2 separate regions of the Homo sapiens genome follow, and region 1 is linked to region 2. Evidence: fine-mapped expression QTL. A gene starts in region 2. The other region holds a variant in brackets. All regions are shown on one strand. Distances are from middle to middle. Region 1 overlaps CMTM7 (CKLF like MARVEL transmembrane domain containing 7). Region 2 holds the start of CMTM7 (CKLF like MARVEL transmembrane domain containing 7).

Region 1 (8,312 bases), 63 kb after region 2:
TTTAATCGGTACCCTGCTCCTCCTCATCGCCTCCATTGTGGCAGCTTCCAAGAGTTACAACCAGAGCGGACTGGTAGCCGGAGCGGTGAGGATGTTTTGGGGAGCCTTTAGGAATGAATTCTTATTTAAAATGCTCATTTTCTTCCTGATGGGGGAAGAGAAGGGCTTGGTTTCTGGGGCATTCCCTTCATAGAATCAATACCTACCTTGATCCAGCCATCAGCTCTCTCCAAAGAGCCTTAAGCAGAGGCGTACAGTCCCAGAAGGTGGATTGTCAGGGCTGCCAGCAAATTCATAGACCCCAGCAGCCCAGGCCTCTCTCTCTTACAGGCACTACTGAAATCAGGGGGCCAGGCGGGTTTTAATTCACACACCCACTCTGATCATTTGCTCGTTGGCTGCCTCAGCACTATGCAGAGACAGATGCTGGAGCCTCTTTTGGGCCCAGTGGGAAATGTACTGTGATCAATTAGAGATACATGCCATGAGCCTGAGCTTTGCCATTCCTGATTTTTAACAGTATTCAGGCCAGGAAATAATACTCCTGTATCTTTCAGAGGCAAAAATTGATCCATCTGATAGCCATAAATAGAAGTAGATGGAAATATACAAAAATACAGTCCTGTGAGATATATACATACATATATATGTATATACATACAGATGTATATGCTATTTTTTTAAAGATTCATAGATTCCTGTCATCTGATTTCTGATTTAGCTAACTATTTATAGTTCAGTGGCCTGTGGGCCAACACTGATTTGCTTCACTGATGAGCAGACAAGATTTTAAAAATGAGTTTTGAGAAAAGCTCTCTCAAGCCAGATGTGGTAGCTAGCATGCACCTGTAGTCCCAGGCACTCGGCAGGAATGCTTGTGCCCAGGAGTTCGGTCTGGCCTGGGCAACGTACTGAGACCCTGTGTCTTAAAAAAAGAAAAAGAGAAAAAGAAAAGCTCTCTCTGTATGTGACATTCATTGTCTTTCACTTACGTATATTACCAAAATTTTCCAGACTTTGGCCTGGGAGTGGGTTGGCTCCTGGAATTCCACTGAGGGATGGAGTCTCTCCTCTGAAGGTCAGCATGGGGGCAGAAGGTCACTGTAGAGGGTGGCCAAACCTCCCAACACTGATGCTCCACATGGCCCTCCCACAGCCCACCATCACACCTCTCTGCCCCCTCTCTCTGCTGTCTCTGAAGAGAGGGATGGTTGCCCCCTGAAGCTTAACACCTGCCCAGCTACAGTGCAGGGTACTGGAAGAGGCACACAGGAGACCTGTGCCCACTGTGTTTCCGGGCCCACTTGAGGAGATTCCCACTGTGTTTAGTAATTCAGGTTGCACATAACTGTTTAGCCCTGGAATCTCTATAGCTAACATTCATCATATGCTGTCTGTGTGCCTAGGACCAAACCTGGGCTATGAGGAAGTTAGAAGAAATTTTTAAAATATGGTCCCTGCTTATAAGAAAGTGGTCATCTAGCTTAGGAGACAAGACACATGAAACAATTAGTAAACAAGGCGTTGTAGTCTAGAATAGCATTCTGTAGCGATATAATAAACTGTTCAATTATGCAGTGCAGACAGTTGGGGACCGGGATGGTATATAACGTGCTAATTGTGCAGAACAGACAATGAGAGGCCGGGACAGGCTCTAATAGGCTAATTATGTGCTGTAGACAATTGGTACAAAAGGAGCCCAGGAAAAGAAACCCGGGGAAGAAGTGGATGTGGGCTGGTGGGGGCAGCTGTTTATGTAAAGCAGCATCTGGGCTTGAAAAGAAAACCAAACCTTGTTGAAAATCCTACCCTTAGCTGCCCCTGCGCCATTCTCACTGGACACCAGTGGCGGTGTAGTGAAGTGGAGGCCTTTGTGTGGGTCTGAGAACACCTAGGCACCCGGTACTGCAGAGTGCGGACTCTGGAGCCAGGCTCCCTGGGCTCCCATCCCATATCTGGCCCTTGCTGGCTCTGTGGCCTTCGGCAAAACAGATGACCGCCTGTACCTCTGTTTCTTTAGCTGTGAAATGGAGGAGCAGGGTGGGTAATCCTAGCACCCACCCAGCAGAGTTGTGAGGGTTAAAGGAATCAATACACCCACAGGGCCTCACACCCTGGTAGGGATGTAGTAAAGTGGTCAGTAAGTTTTCACCACTGCAGCTGCCGGTGTTGTTCACAAGCAAGGAAAATGGCTGCAGGCTTCAAAGCCCAGAGATTCCAGAAGAAGCTACTGCCTCTTCCTCGACCATTTGATGAGCCTCCCACAGGCACTCTTCGTCTCCCAGCACCCGAATCTCATCTACAAGTGAGGGGGCTGGGCTAGGTCAGCCTTCCTCACACTTGAGCGCTGGATGACCCTGAGAAAGGGAAAGGGTGCTGCCTTGACTTAGTTGAGTCTAATATTGTTTAATATGTACAAACGTAAACCTAGATGTAAAGGCCTCGGCTTCTGGCTCTAATACGGCTATGAAGCCAGAATGGAACAGAAAGTCATTACAAATGAAATGCGAACAACGCCACTACACCACAAATCATGGGAACGTTCAGATTTTTTTAACCCAAATTAAAATTTCATCCTTTTCTTCTCTTTTGGTCCAGGATAATCAAAGTCCATTGGCTTAGCCCCAGCTTGCTTGTAAATGTAAACCCAGACCAGGCACTGAAGCTGCCAAGAGTGAAGACCGAGAGGCCTGGCTGCCAGCCCTGACCTGGCCCAACCTGGAGGACTGGGGCCAGTGGCTGGGCCTCGCGGGGCTTCCTCTCTGCACCTGATCCAGGATGAGGTGGTTGGGTTAGATGACTCTCCAAGCTCCTTTCTGGCCAGAGACATGAAGGGAACAAGCACAGAGATGAGAAGCAGACAGGATTGCCCGAGTAATTAGCCCTATGGCCTGTGAACTTCCTCTCCCCTCTCTCCACTGCAGATCTTTGGTTTCATGGCCACCTTCCTCTGCATGGCAAGCATATGGCTGTCCTATAAGATCTCGTGTGTAACCCAGTCCACAGGTGAGTTCTGGTTATCTGTGCACAGAGGATCTCTCAGGAACAGGGGGATGGCTTGTTCTTGACTTCAGCCATAGGGACAAACCCTGCTGTTGAGAAGGCTGTGTTCCAAGGGGACTTTAGAAGTAGTATTAGAGCACAGGGGCCAGCAAAGGGGAAGATGTGACCCCAGAATCTCCCCTCACATTCCCATCTCCACACATCCAAGGATGCCCTAACATTTCAGCCTCGGGTGGCCAAGCTTTTTTCTCTTTCTTGCTTCCTTTCTTTCTTTTTCTTTACTTTTCTTTTTTTTTTTTTGAGATTGGGTTTTGCCCTGTTGTCCAGGCTGGTGCAGTGGTACGATCAGAGCTCACTGCAGCCTCCGCCTCCCAGGCTCAAGTGATCCTCCAACCTCAGCCTCCTGAGTACCTGGGACTACAGGTGTGCACCACCATGCCTAATTTCAATTTTTTTTTTTTTTTTTTTTTTTTTTTTTTTTTTAGAGTTGGAGTCTCACCATGTTGCCCAGGCTGGTCTCAAACTCCTGGGCTCAAGCAGTCCTCCCACCTCAGCCTCTGAAAGTGCTGGGATTATAGACATGAACCACCGCACCCAGCCAGCTTTTTCTTAAGTTTCCTAATGACAAAAATAAAATGTAGGTTTTTAGAAAATACAGATAAAAAATATGTTTAATAGAAACCGTCTGAACCAGGGACAGTGGTGTGTACCCATAGTACCAGCTACTCAGGTGGCTGAGGCAAGAGGATCACCTGAGCCCAGGAGTTTGAGACCAATCTGAGCAACATAGTCAGACTCCGTCTCTTAAAAAATAAAATAAAATAAGAAAAAGCCATCTGTCATCACACTACCCAGAAGTAGCACTGAGTATCCTTTCGATATTTTCTCTCTGAAAATATATATATCTGTTGCTTTTATTAAAAGGATCAAACTTCATGTGCTGTTTCATAATATGTTTTTTCTCCTACTTAGCCACTGACCAAACATTTTCCCAACATCATTAGGAATTCTTAGCAACTCCGTGGGTTGCAGCATTAAGTCCATCGCATGACTGTGCAGTTTATTTAACTTGCCTCCTCTTTGAGGGCATTACTCATGGAATCCTACACTGAGCCCATGTAGTGTAGGATTCCACTAATAAGAATCGTCTAGAGCAGGCAGATTCATAGAGACACAAGGTAGACCCATGGCGGCCTGGGGCTGCTGGGAGAGGACTCAGGTGTGACTGCTAATGAGGATGAGGCTTCTTTTTGAGGTGATGAAAAGGCTCTAAAATTGTGGTTGCACAGTCCTGTGAATATACTGAAAAACACTTTAGATGGGAGAATTGTATGGTATGTGAATTATTAAAATATCCCAGTAAAGCTGTTTAAGAAAAAAAAGAATGATTTTTAAACGTAGAGAATATAGGGGAAAAGAGAAGTTAATAGGTGGTGTCTAACAGGATAAATCTATAAATATTGGTATAAATTGGTTTTTTGAATTATGGAAGAATCACCAAAAGAAATGGCTAAAAGGCTTGGGAGGTTGCTGCTGAGGAGTAAGACTGAGGTCGGGGGAGTGCGGATGGGAGTCACCTCTGCACTACCGAAGTTTTTTCCTTGTTTGGAAATGTATTTTTAAAAAATGGAATAATCTCAGTGCAAGTCGGCACTGGGTGGAGGACACAGGTGCCCCCCTGAGCAGAACTTGGAGTCAAACCTGTGGAGTGTGGCTTGTGGGTGGGCCACATCCCTGGCAAGCTGTCCTGACTGCCATTTCCTTCCCAAGATGCAGCCGTCTGATGAGGCCACAACCCCTAGGCCCCTCAGGAGCTTTGCAGAGAGGAGGACGTGTACTCCAGGCGAGGCCTCTGGACCTGTGTTCCTGTGCCAAAGTCCTGTCAGGCTGGTGGGCACCAGGAAAGGCCTGCACCCTCTTCCTGCTCTCCCAGGAAGCCAGCTCCCTGAGCTCCTGAGCCAGCCGGAAACTCTTCCTCCAGCCTTCCGGGGAGAACATCCCTCCCATTCTGGGAAAGGAAAGCAGCCTCCAGGGAAATGTTTTCTGCCTTCCTGCTTCTAGAACCACCTCAGGTACTGATGAACCCCACTTAGCACAGCTGAAGGGGTTTGTGAATACTCCCGCCTAAATCC[C/G]TTCTACTTCACTCCTCAGGGGAGTGAAGTGCCTTAAGAAACAAAGCCCTGTCCTAATTTATCTAGCTTGTCAGTCCGGTCTTAGAGATACCCTCTTTCCTGAAGTGAGGCGTGCCTGTAGAAACACTATGTGGTCAGCCTGTCCCCAAGGAGATCTTGTGTCTCCTCTCCATCTCTGCCTTTGTTACCAGTGTGCATGTGTTTGTGTGTTTTTTAATAAAATATTGACTCGGCCAGTTGCACAAGGATTTCTTATTGAACCAGATGAAGGCTGTAAAACCTGGCCTGAAACAGTTTCCATTCGAGCTTGTGTCTGGCCCATGGCCCTCCACCCGTGCTCTGTGTGTGCCCCTTGCTGAACTGCTGGACTTCAGGTTTTCTCTCCATCTTGGGGGATAGTATAGCAGGGCAGAGTTTTAGGTAAACATGTGCAGGTTCTCAATTATATTCACGTCCTCCTTCTCCTGCAATACCAATCTTCTCATTTTGGAAAGAGCTTTAGAGCAAGCTAAGGGTTGTGTTTACACTATGATGATTAATGATCTCGGCCTAAATGTGCTGTTTCGCTGATCTTGAGCTGCTCAGTTGGCTAGAAAAAGGAGGGATGGAACAATGTTTGAGCAACCCCGTGTGCAAGGACCTACATTCACAACCACATCTAATAGCGATGGTAGTGACTGCAAGGGGGCAGGTTATAGGACCACATTTTTAGAAATGAAATCGGGGCTCCATCCCCAGGCACAGGGCAAGCCAGTGAGGAGCTGGGCTCAGGATCTAGGTCTGCCTGACTCCCAGCCCCATCCTTGCCTCTGCTGAGTGTTGCCGGAAATGGAAGCAGCCCCTGTGGGCTTTGAGCTGGAGCTCTGGGGCTACTCTTGTGGCTGCTGGCCAGCTCGGGGCATCGGGTTCTGTCTGGGATGATCTAAGGAAGCAGCACCCGTGGTGTATCTGGAGCCGAGTGCTGCTGATGGGAGGGGATCCTGTGTACCAGCTGGGCTGGAGCGGGAACATGGCTGAGCTGACCCTGGCACAGTCGGCTCCTCCAGGGCAATGGAATGGAGGAGTCTCAGCTGAGGAGGGCACGGTCCAGGTGAGGCATTGGGTCTGGGAGCCCCCTGCCTGTGTAGTGACAATGCAGGCCTCGCCAAGCAACGAGGATCCGGGTTTGACCATTTGAGCATCCCCCTAGGAGGGCAAAGGTGGGTGGAGGACAGTTGGAGGAATAGTAGCAGGAGCCAGAGTCTGCTCAGTGAGGAAGGAAAGCAAAACGCAGAGCCAAGTGAGGCCTCCACAGACAGCGAGCAGTGGACCATGCAGCCAGTGGCTTGGCTGAGGGGTGGCTGTTTGAGACCACAGGGCCTTTTTAGAAACTGGGGTTTCTGTGACCTCCCAAAAACTGTCTGGTAAAACCATCCCTTCTAAATGGCCACATCTCCAGCACCAGGGAGTAAATGTTTAAGCAAAGAGCTAAGGATGGTGGAAAGACAGTCAGGCTGGGAGCCGCAGACGTGGGGTTGAGCCCAGCTCTGCCATTGACTAGCCCCCGACTTGGCACGGGTCATCTTGCTGAACCTTAGTTCCCCCTTTGTATAACGGAGAGAATAAGCCCATCCTGGCCTGTCTGTGACCTCCTTGGAATTCAGTAACAGAGCAGCGTGCTTACTTATCGTTATCTTTCTAATCTTAATCCCCAGAGAGGTACCAGAATGACAGGAAATGAGCAGGTTAATGTTGCAAAAGTGATCGAATCACCTGGGTGCAAGGGAGCTGGAGAACATAATTTACTTTCAGTTTCCTGGACCTTAAATTTTGTTAAAGTCAAGATTGGAAGCTGAGGGCAGTTTTCAGCCGGGCGCTGGGACCCATGGTGGACAGAGGGCATGATGAAACACCTGTAGGGAACTGGGTGGGTGAACGCATCCCCAGCAGCCGGCTCTGAGCTGAGTCGTGGGGGTCCTCCCTGCCAGAGGCCCACTAACCTCGTCTAACCTGGTGAAGGGGACACTGGCTTTTCACTTTTGAAGTATGACAATGACCTTCAGATCCTCTGCTTCTCCAGTTCTTTTAGCCCCAGTGGCGCCCCAGCCACTCAGGTACGTTCTAGAAGCAGGGCCAGCACCTTTGAGCCCCAGTCATCTTGGCAACCTCTGCACACAGCTGGCTCTCCATTGGCAATTGAGGATGCTGTTGACAGTAGGGAGAAGGAGACCCTCTGGTTTCCCTATGGTGACTCACTCCTCCTGGACACAGCTTCAACCCTAGGGAGTGAATATCTAAGCCGGGGGGCAGTGCCATTCAGCTGCCCCATGGAGGACCAGCCCCTAAACCCAGGCATTAACTCATCACAGTGCAGCACGGCCTGGGGAAGCCGACCAGCCTTCCTCCAAGAAATTGAGATGCAATAGGTCTGAAATGAGAGCCAGGAATTCCTAAGCCTTGTCCACAAAGTGGATATCACCTGGCAGCTGGTTAGAATTGCAGGATCCCAGCCCCACAAAGACCAACTAAAATAGAATCATCTGCATCATAACCGAGTCCCAGTGGTGTGTGTGCATTGCAGTATTTGTGAGACACTGTTGGAATCAAAGATGCTGTAAAGTGGGTGCAACTCTGAGGCTGATTTCACCAAAGGGGGAAGGAGATGAGAAATGGTGTCAGTTGGCGGGTTTCTGAAGCAAACCCTACTTCTCACTGGATCCACAGCTGCATTGGAAGAAAGATTCCTTTTAAGAAGTAGTTAATGGGCCGGGCGCGGTGGCTCATGCCCGTAATCCTAGCACTTTGCGAGGCCTAGGTAGGTGGATCACCTGAGGTCAGGAGTTCCAGACCAGCCTGGCCAACATGGCGAAACCTCTTCTCTACTAAATACAAAAAATTAGCTGGGCGTGATGGCATATGCCTGTAATCCCAGCTACTTGGGAGGCTGAGGCAGAAGAATCACTTGAACCCGGGAGGCGGAGGTTGCAGTGAGCCGAGATTGCGGCGCCATCGCACTCCAGCCTGGGCAACAAGAGCAAAACTCCATCTCAGGAAAAAAAAAAAAAAAAAAAAAGAAGTAGTAGCTAATGGATGATGGATGCTGGGCTTAGTACCTAGGTGATGGGTTAATCTGTGCAGCAAACCACCATGGCACACGTTTACCTATGATGTGCATCCTTCACATGGACCCCGGAACTT
Region 2 (8,344 bases):
TTTCTCAGAGTTCTAGAGTCTGGGGAGTACAAGATCAAGGTGCTGATCGATTTGGTTCCTGTTGAGGGCTCTCTTCCTAGCTTGCAGAAAGCTACCTTCTCGTTGTATTCTCACATGGTGGAGAGAATGCCAGCAGGTTCTCTGGTGTCTTTTTTATAAGGACACCAATCCCCCCCTGAGGGCCCCACCCTCATGATCTCACCTAAGTCTAACTATTGCCCACAGGCCCCATCTCCAAATGTCATCACATTGGGCGTTAAGTCTTCAACTTTTAAATGATGGGGGGACACAAACATTCAGTGCATAACACTGCCTAATATTCACTCCGCTTTCTGATACTCGCACCCTGGTTTTCCTTTTGGGAACCACCCCTTCCTCACTCAGCTCCTGTGGTTCTACTGGGCTGAACCTATCCCACCCCCAGCTTCATGGGTAGGTAGAACTTGACCTGGCCACCAAAAATGTTCCACTCCTCTGGCCATAGTAATTCGTTGAAAGATGGAACCATGACCCATATTTGGACTAATGAGAGATAGTGCCTATTATGGACTGAATTGTGTGTCCTCCCTGCCCCAAATACATAGGTGGCAGCCTTACCCCCAAGTGTGACTGTATTTGGAGATGGACTCTTTGGGGAGATAATATGGTTAAATGAGGTCATAAGAGTGGGGCCAGAATCCAATAGGACTGGTGTCCCTTTAGGAAGAGACACCAGAGATCTCTCTCTCTCTTTCCATGTACACAGAGAAAAGGCCATGTGTGGACACAGCAAGAAGGTGGCCATCTAAAGTCATGAAGAGAGGCCTCACCAGAAACCAGCCCTGATGGCAACTGGATTTTGAACTTCTAGTCTCCAGAATTGTGAGAAGTGAATTCTTGTTGAGAAGCCACCCAGTATGTGATATTTTGTTATGGCAGCCTAAGACAGTACCAGAGCCACTGGAAAAGACAGGCTGAAATAACGAAGGCAGGATTATTGTGTAAGCCTGAGCTGTCAGAGCTCATGAGAGGGCCTGCCTGAAAAGCCAACACAGAGCAGAGTGAAGCCAGGAGATGGAGGTCCTGACTGTGCCTGAGGAGCACCTGGATCCAGCCATGCCTGAAGTGGGTGTATACCTCTGCATATCACAGTTACTCAAGCCAATGAATTATTTTGTTTTGCTTTTTATTAGTTTGTTTGTTTGTTTTTGAGACAAGGTCTCACTCTGTTGCCCAGGCTGGAGTGTAGTGGCACGATTATGGCTCACTGTAACATTGAACTCTTGGGCTCAAGTGATCTTCCCCCCGCTCAGCTTCTTAAGTTGCTTGGACTACACATCTGGCCAATTTTTTCATTTTTTGTAGAGATGGGGGTCTCACTATGCTGCCCAGGCTGGTCACAAAATCCTGGCCTCAAATGATCCTCCTGCCTCGGCCTTCCAAAATATTGGGATTATAGGCATGAGCCACCGTGCCAAGCCTATTTTGTTTTTTGTTTTGTTTTGTTTTTAAAGACAGGGTCTTGCTATGTTGCCCAGGCTGGCCTGGAACTTCAGGGCTCAAGAAATCTTCCTACCCCAGTCTCCTGAGTAGCTGGGACTACAGGCATGCACCACTGCTCCCAGCTTGAATGAACTCTTCTTTTTGCTTGATTTTAGTTTGTCTCATCAAAAGCACTGTGACTAATACAGAGTCAACTCTAATTTTATTACTTTTTTCATTATATCTGATCAGATATAACATCATAAACACACTGGTGAAGAAGAGTTATAGTCAGAGTACCACTCGAATTGAAGCTTTAAACTGTCAATAAGCCACCTGCAATCCCTCGGTGTAGAGAAAAGGAGAACTTGGACATCTTGATTTCTCACCAGGTATTCAGAGGTCACCTACCTGGTTGGTTCCCTCTTAGAGTGTGACATCTTTAAAGTGGGCTATGAAGCCCTTTGCCTAAGACCTTGCTTTCCCAAGGGGCAGCTATTCACATCTAGCAGACAACACACTAGTGTAGACATCTCAGTGCACTTGGCAAGCCTCTGAAGCCTCTTCTTGTAAGTCAGGCCAGCAATGGCCCTTGCACTGGCAAGCATCTTGCTCAAGCTCTTAAGTGATCATAATAAAGTGATTAACACAGAGTGCCCAGCACAGTGATTACTTCTGATTAGAGGTGGGTGGTGCATTAGTCAACACCAGGCAGAAAAGCCCAGCAATGTTTCTGAGCAGACTCAGGAAGAGATAGTTGTTCTCAAACTTGAGTATGCATCAGAATCACAGAATGATGGTGAAGGGGGGTGGGGAGTGAGGGTGGGGTTGGGAAGACTTGTTAAGACACACACTGCTGAGCCCTACCCCTAGAGTTTCTGATTCAGCAGGTCAGAGTGGGCCCCTAGAATCTGCATTTCTCACAAGTTCGCAGGTACTGCTGGTTGGGGGGCTATACACTGAAAATCACTGTTAGAAGACTGCTGAATTGGACAAAGGCCCCTCAAAGGAGAAATGATCCAGCACTTGGTTTTTCTGCTTCCCTGAAACCCTCATCTCAACAAAGATGCCCTGTTATCTCCACTGTGGGTCCTGAAGCCTTAGACAAGTACAGAAGTGAAATGTACATCTACATAAAAAAATGATACACAGTACTAACTTCATGCCTGTGGGTATAGAGCCAGAAATGTCACAGCACACCTGCATATCTATCACATTGTCACAGCAGCCCCTAGATGCAATTATTCCTGAATTACAGAGAAACAAATGGAGGTACCAGGCAGCTGTGACTGTTGTCTACAGAGAAGACACACGTGGAAGGCAATTTTTCTTGGTCATGAAAATTGTCAAATGTACATAAAGGTGAAATAAATAGTGTAATAAATCCCCAAATGTTTCAACTGCAGTGGACTCTGGCAATGACAGTGGTTCTCAAATTTGAGTGTGCATCAGAATCACCTAAGAGACTTGCCAAAACAGATATTGCATGGGTATCATCCACCAACAAGAATTATTAGGACTTTGCCACATCGAAAACTCTTCTGATGACAAGACAGCACTGGCAGGGAATAAACTCACAAAGATAGTTTTATGTTTCACTTTGCTTTGTTTTGTTCTTGAGGCAGGGTCTTGCTCTGTCACCCAGCCTGGAGTACAGTGTTGTAATCATGACTCACTGCAGCTTCAACCTCCCGGGCTCAAGCAATCCTCCCACCTCAGCCTCCTGAGTAGCTGGGACTACAGGCATGTGCCACCATGCCCAGTTAATTTTTGTATTTTTTTGTAGAGATGGGGTTTCTCCATGTTGCCCTTGCTGGTGTCAAACTTGGGCTTGTGAGCTTGATTTTGGGATTACAGACATGAGCCACCGTGCCCAGCCAGATTTTTTGATGTTATCTCCAAATGAATAAATGTAAGTATGGCCACAGGGACACTGCTCAAAAGGAACATGATAACATACCTCGTTTTGGTAGTCCCGTTTGGGCCTGTCTTCATTTTTATGTTTTTTTCCTTTTCTTTTTCTTTTTCTTTTTTTAAGAGACAGTGTCTCACTCTGTCACCCAGACAAGAGTGCGGTGGCAAGATCATAGCTCACTGCAATCTCGGACTCCTGGCCTCCAGGGATCTTCATGCCTTGACTTCCCAAAGTGCTGGGATTATAGGTGTGAGCCACCACGCCTGGCCTCTTCATTTTTAAAACAACCCAAAAGGGATACAGAATAGAATGTCACTTGGATAGCTGTTTGACAGCTTTTTCTTTTTCTTGTCTTTTTTTTTTTTTTTAATTGAGACAAGGTCTTGCTCTGTGGCCCAGGCTGGAGTGCAATGCCACTGTCATGGCTCACTGCAGCCTCAACCTCCTGGGCTCCAAGGCTCCTCCAGACTCAGCCTCCTGAACAGGCATGTGCCACTGCACCCAGCTAATTTATTTATTTATTTATTTTTATTTTTATTTTTATTTTGAGACAGAGTCTCGCTCTGTCGCCCAGGCTCGAATGCAGTGGCGCAAGCTCTGCTCACTGCAAGCTCCGCCTCCCGGGTTCACGCCATTCTCAGCATCCCGAGTAGCTGTGACTGCAGGCGCCCGCCACCACGCCCAGCTAATTTTTTGTATTTTTAGTAGAGACGGGGTTTCACCGTGTTAGCCAGAATGGTCTCGATCTCCTGACCTCGTGATCCGCCCGCCTCGGCCTCCCAAAGTGCTGGAATTACAGGCGTGAGCCACCGCGCCCGGCCCAGCTAATTTATTTTTATTTTTTGTTTTTTGTAGAAATGAGGTCTGGCCATGTTCCCCAGGCTGACAGCTTCTAACAGAAGCAAACATATGCTCCCCTTGTAACCAGTGCGTTCACTTGCAGATATTTGTCCCAGAGAAATGAGAGTTTGTATCCACCAAAAAAACGTGTACCATAATAGTGACTATAGCCAGAAAAGAGATGAGGGAGGGGGGAAAGGCCGGAAGGAGGGAAGGAGGCAGGCAAGCAGGTAGGAAGGAAGCAAGCTTGGTGTCCATCAACTGGGTAAACGTTTAAAAAATACGGTATCTTTGCACAGTGGAGTACTACTCAGCAATAAAAAGGAAGGAACTGATATGAACTACTTATATTCCCAACAGGATGGATCTTCTAATTTGTTATGTTGAAGGAGAATATTCTGTATTACTTCAAGTTTATGAAGTCCAAGAACAGGCAAAATGAACCTACAGTGACAGAAAGCAGAATACACTGTAGTGGTTGCCTGAGGCTGGATAAGGATGGGGCCAGGGAAGGAAGGTAGGTCAGGAAGGCCCACCACGGAACTTTCTGGGGTGATGGGCACGTTCTATTTGTTGATCTGGGCGACGGTTACACAGGTGTACACATATATAAAAATTAGTGGAGCTGAACACGTAAGGTCTGGGCATCACACTTTATGTAAGTTAAACTTCAGTAAAGTGCTCTCAGCACACATCCGCAGCCGCACCCACACAAAATCCCAGGAGGCTCAGTACCAGCTGTGGTCCGGGCCTTGCCCACCTCGGAGAGGCCACGACCCAAGGCATCCGGTTTCCTCTCGCTCCAGTCTAACTTCCGCGCATCTACGAGGGCCGGGACTGCCGCTACCTTTCTGGAAGGCGCCGGCCGGCCAGTCACCGGAGGGATCCCGCCAGAGGCGGCTCCGCGTCTCCAGCAGCGGGGCAGGGACCCGGGCGCCCCGCCCTCGCCAGCGCCCGCCCCCGCCCGCCCCCGGCCCGCCCTCTGTATCTGGCCCCTGGGCAGCTGCCCGGGGAGGCGGCCAGCGAGCTGGGGCCGCGCAATGTCGCACGGAGCCGGGCTCGTCCGCACCACGTGCAGCAGCGGCAGCGCGCTCGGACCCGGGGCCGGCGCGGCCCAGCCCAGCGCGAGCCCCTTGGAGGGGCTGCTGGACCTCAGCTACCCCCGCACCCACGCGGCCCTGCTGAAAGTGGCGCAAATGGTAAGTGAGCGCGGGGCGCGAGGCCGAGGTTCTACAGGGCGTCCCGGGAAAGCAGGGGTCCGGGAGCGGACGCGCCGGGCGTCTGGACCCGGCCGGAGCCCAGGGAGCATCGCGCAGCGGGCGGGGCACCGCGTCGCTAAAGTTCGCGGCAGGCTTCCTCCGGGAAAGTTGCTGCCGCAGCCCCCGCGCTGGAGCTCAGTCCCCAGAGCCGCCCCGGCCCTTGCTCCCGCGGACCCAGGTCGCCAGGGTCGCAAGTTTCTCCGGCCACCCCCCTGCGAAGCCTGACCCGCCTACTGACTGAAACCACGGGCAAAGTTCCTTTTCGTCTTTCTTCCTCTTCTCTGGGCCGCGCCGCTTCGAACCCGAGCCGGGGGTGGAAGAGTCGCCCAGGCGGCGGCGCTGAGGGAGCGAAACCCGACCTCTTCCCCGTCCACGGCCTCCTCTTTCCTCCGAACCCAGCGCGGCAGGGCTTCCCTGCTCTGTGTGCAGTTTCGCTCGAAGGAGGAGGTCAGAGGGTCTTGTGTTCCATAGTGGGGAAAAAGAACTGGGACCGTTGAGACGGCCGTCCTGGTCCCCTGCGCCCTCAAGTTCCGAGGGAGGGCCCGGGTCTCAGGGGGCTCTGGAGGGCAGGGGGTCAGTTGGGAAAGGCCTGTTGTCAGGGGCTGGTACTCATGTAGGGGAGCCAGACTGTTGAATGGGAGTCACCCGTGGAGCCAGGCAGGATGAGTGTCTGGGCTTGGATTGTGACCAACTCAGCACAAGGGCCTCCTACCAGGGCAGACGTTGCCTGGCCGATTCTCTTGTTCCCCACTCTTTTCTTTTCTCCCCTCCCGTTTTTTTCTTCTTTAAAAGTTTGTAATCTGAAACAACTTTTCCGTTTGTATGATGTGTTTTGAAACTGGGTTGGGCTGTTTGTGAGTCTCCACCATTGTAATGTTTGCACCAAGAACGGTGGGGAGGGGAGCGGTAAGTTTCAAAAAGAGGTGTGGGGAAAGGAGTGTGGGGCTGGACAAGGTCACACACCCAGAAGCTGGGGCCTGCTAAGGTGGCCTGGCCCCAGGGGGTTGGGCACAGGACGTCTGTGCATCTATAGCACTGCCATTCCAGACACTGAGTGTGCATGAGGTGGCCCTCATGTCTTGCTTGGGCCAGACCTAAAGAGAAGGGGCGCTGAGTTCCTGCCTCCCTAAGAACGGTGTCTAGATAGACCAAAAACTAGGAAGAGCCATTTCAGCAACGTACAAAAAAATCTGGTGCTGAGCATTGTTGGGTTTGAGCAGGGCATTTTTTGGCCCAGGCTAAGAGATTTGATCAGCCAAATAGAAGAGACCAGCCCATCTCACCATCCTTAAAAGATGGGCTGGGGTGAGACATATCCTACCTGAGCATTGGAAGGGATGAGTTTGGTAGACAGAGAATGGGATCAGAAGCCTCCATCTTGGCCCCTGAGTTTGCTGGACAAAGATATTGTGGGATGAAAAGTCTTCTTGTTGGTCTATGAGTTTGGTACACAAACATAATGGAGATGAAACCTCGGCAACATAGCGAGACCCCATCTCTACAAAAAAAATTTTAAAACCTTGTGTGGTTGGCATGGGCCTCTAGTCCCAGTTACTTGGGAGGCTGAGGTGAGAGGATTGATTGAACTGAGAAGGTCAGTGAACTGTGCCACTGCACTAGTCTGCGTGACGGAGGGAGGCCTGTCTCAAAAAAAAAAAAAAAAAAAGGTACAAAGAAAAGGTAATGGAGATGAGAAGCCTTCATGTGGTCCATGATTTTGATGAATAAAGATACTGGGAGATGAGAAATCTCCATCTCATCTTAAGCTCCTCAGCTAGCCTCTGGCCTGTGGTCCTTGGGCCAATTTGCAAGTGGCAAGAGTGGGGCCTGTTGTTCCAAAAAAGAGAACAAAGACTTGAATAATTTCTTTATCTGGTTGCTTATTCTCTATGTGCTCCTCTTAAAACCATGCTGAGGAGTCTTACACCTGCCCTGGAGGATTCCCCATCACTGCTGCAGGCTTGTTTGATCAGACCCTCTGGGAGCAAAGTTGCCCTTGCAGGATGGCTGTATTAGTCCTAGTTAGGGCTATCTACTTGGGCCTCTTATCTAACTCCTCCCTATTTTCCCACTTCTCCTCTTTTCTAAGACTCTGCTTGGGCATTTGAGGTTCATTTGTCTTCTTTGCTGGAAAATGCTTGTTTAGCCAAGTTTTAACATTGGGGAAGGGCAGAAGCAGCTAAATTAATGCCACCCATTGGGGCTTTCTTTCTATGGGTCTCTCATTTTGACCATCAGTTTCTCAGTTTCATACTGAACAGGTTGACCCTTTTGTCCTCAGCTTCTCATGAAATGTTTTCATCATGATCTGATCAATAGATCTGCCAACACGTTGTCTTAAGAAATCATTGCAAAGGCTGTTCCACTGGAGAATGACTTCCCTTGTCTTGGCCTCTTCTGGGTCCACCATTACTAGAAAATGAGTTTCTGAGTGAATGTGTGTACTTGACATGTCATTTATACATGTGTAATTTTTATAATCCTCTGGCCATGATAATTCAGTTTCTTTGGTCTTCCTTTTTGGAGTAGAGACACAGTCACAGGTTTTGACTTTTGACTTTAAAGCACTCTTTTTTTTCTTTCTTTCTTGAGAGGGAGTCTTGCTCTGTCACCAGGCTGGAGTGCAGTGGAACGATCTCAGCTCACTGCAACCTCTGCCTCCCGAGTTCAATCAAATCTCCTGTCTCAGCCTCACGAGTAGCTGGGACTACAGGCACGTGCCACCACACCCAGCTAATTTTTGTATTTTTAGTAGAGATGGGGTTTCACCATGTTGGCCAGGATGGTCTTGATCTCTTGACCTCATGATCCGCCCCCGCCTCTGCCTCCCAAAGCGCTGGTATTACAGGTGTGAGCTGCCGCGCTCGGC

What was found. PIP is the estimated chance that this variant, and not a neighbour inherited with it, causes the effect.
Region 1: its variant is fine-mapped to the expression of CMTM7 in monocytes (CEDAR, PIP 0.95). The same link has a PIP of 0.9 or more in B cells, CD4 T cells, monocytes after LPS and monocytes after interferon gamma.

The regions. Positions count from the first base shown.
Region 1 is chr3:32,449,468-32,457,779 of GRCh38, forward strand. CMTM7 (CKLF like MARVEL transmembrane domain containing 7) reads left to right here. Exons shown (of 5, transcript NM_138410.4): 3 at 1-85; 4 at 2,925-3,006; 5 at 4,774-6,061. The coding sequence ends at 4,787. Among named protein-coding and RNA genes, the nearest start is that of CMTM6, 49 kb to the right of the region's middle. RefSeq lists an enhancer at 4,263-4,763 and a silencer at 6,410-6,479. The variant C/G (reference allele first, on the strand shown) is at 5,136.
Region 2 is chr3:32,386,651-32,394,994 of GRCh38, forward strand. It overlaps CMTM7 (CKLF like MARVEL transmembrane domain containing 7), which reads left to right and starts at 5,203. Exons shown (of 5, transcript NM_138410.4): 1 at 5,203-5,415. The coding sequence starts at 5,257.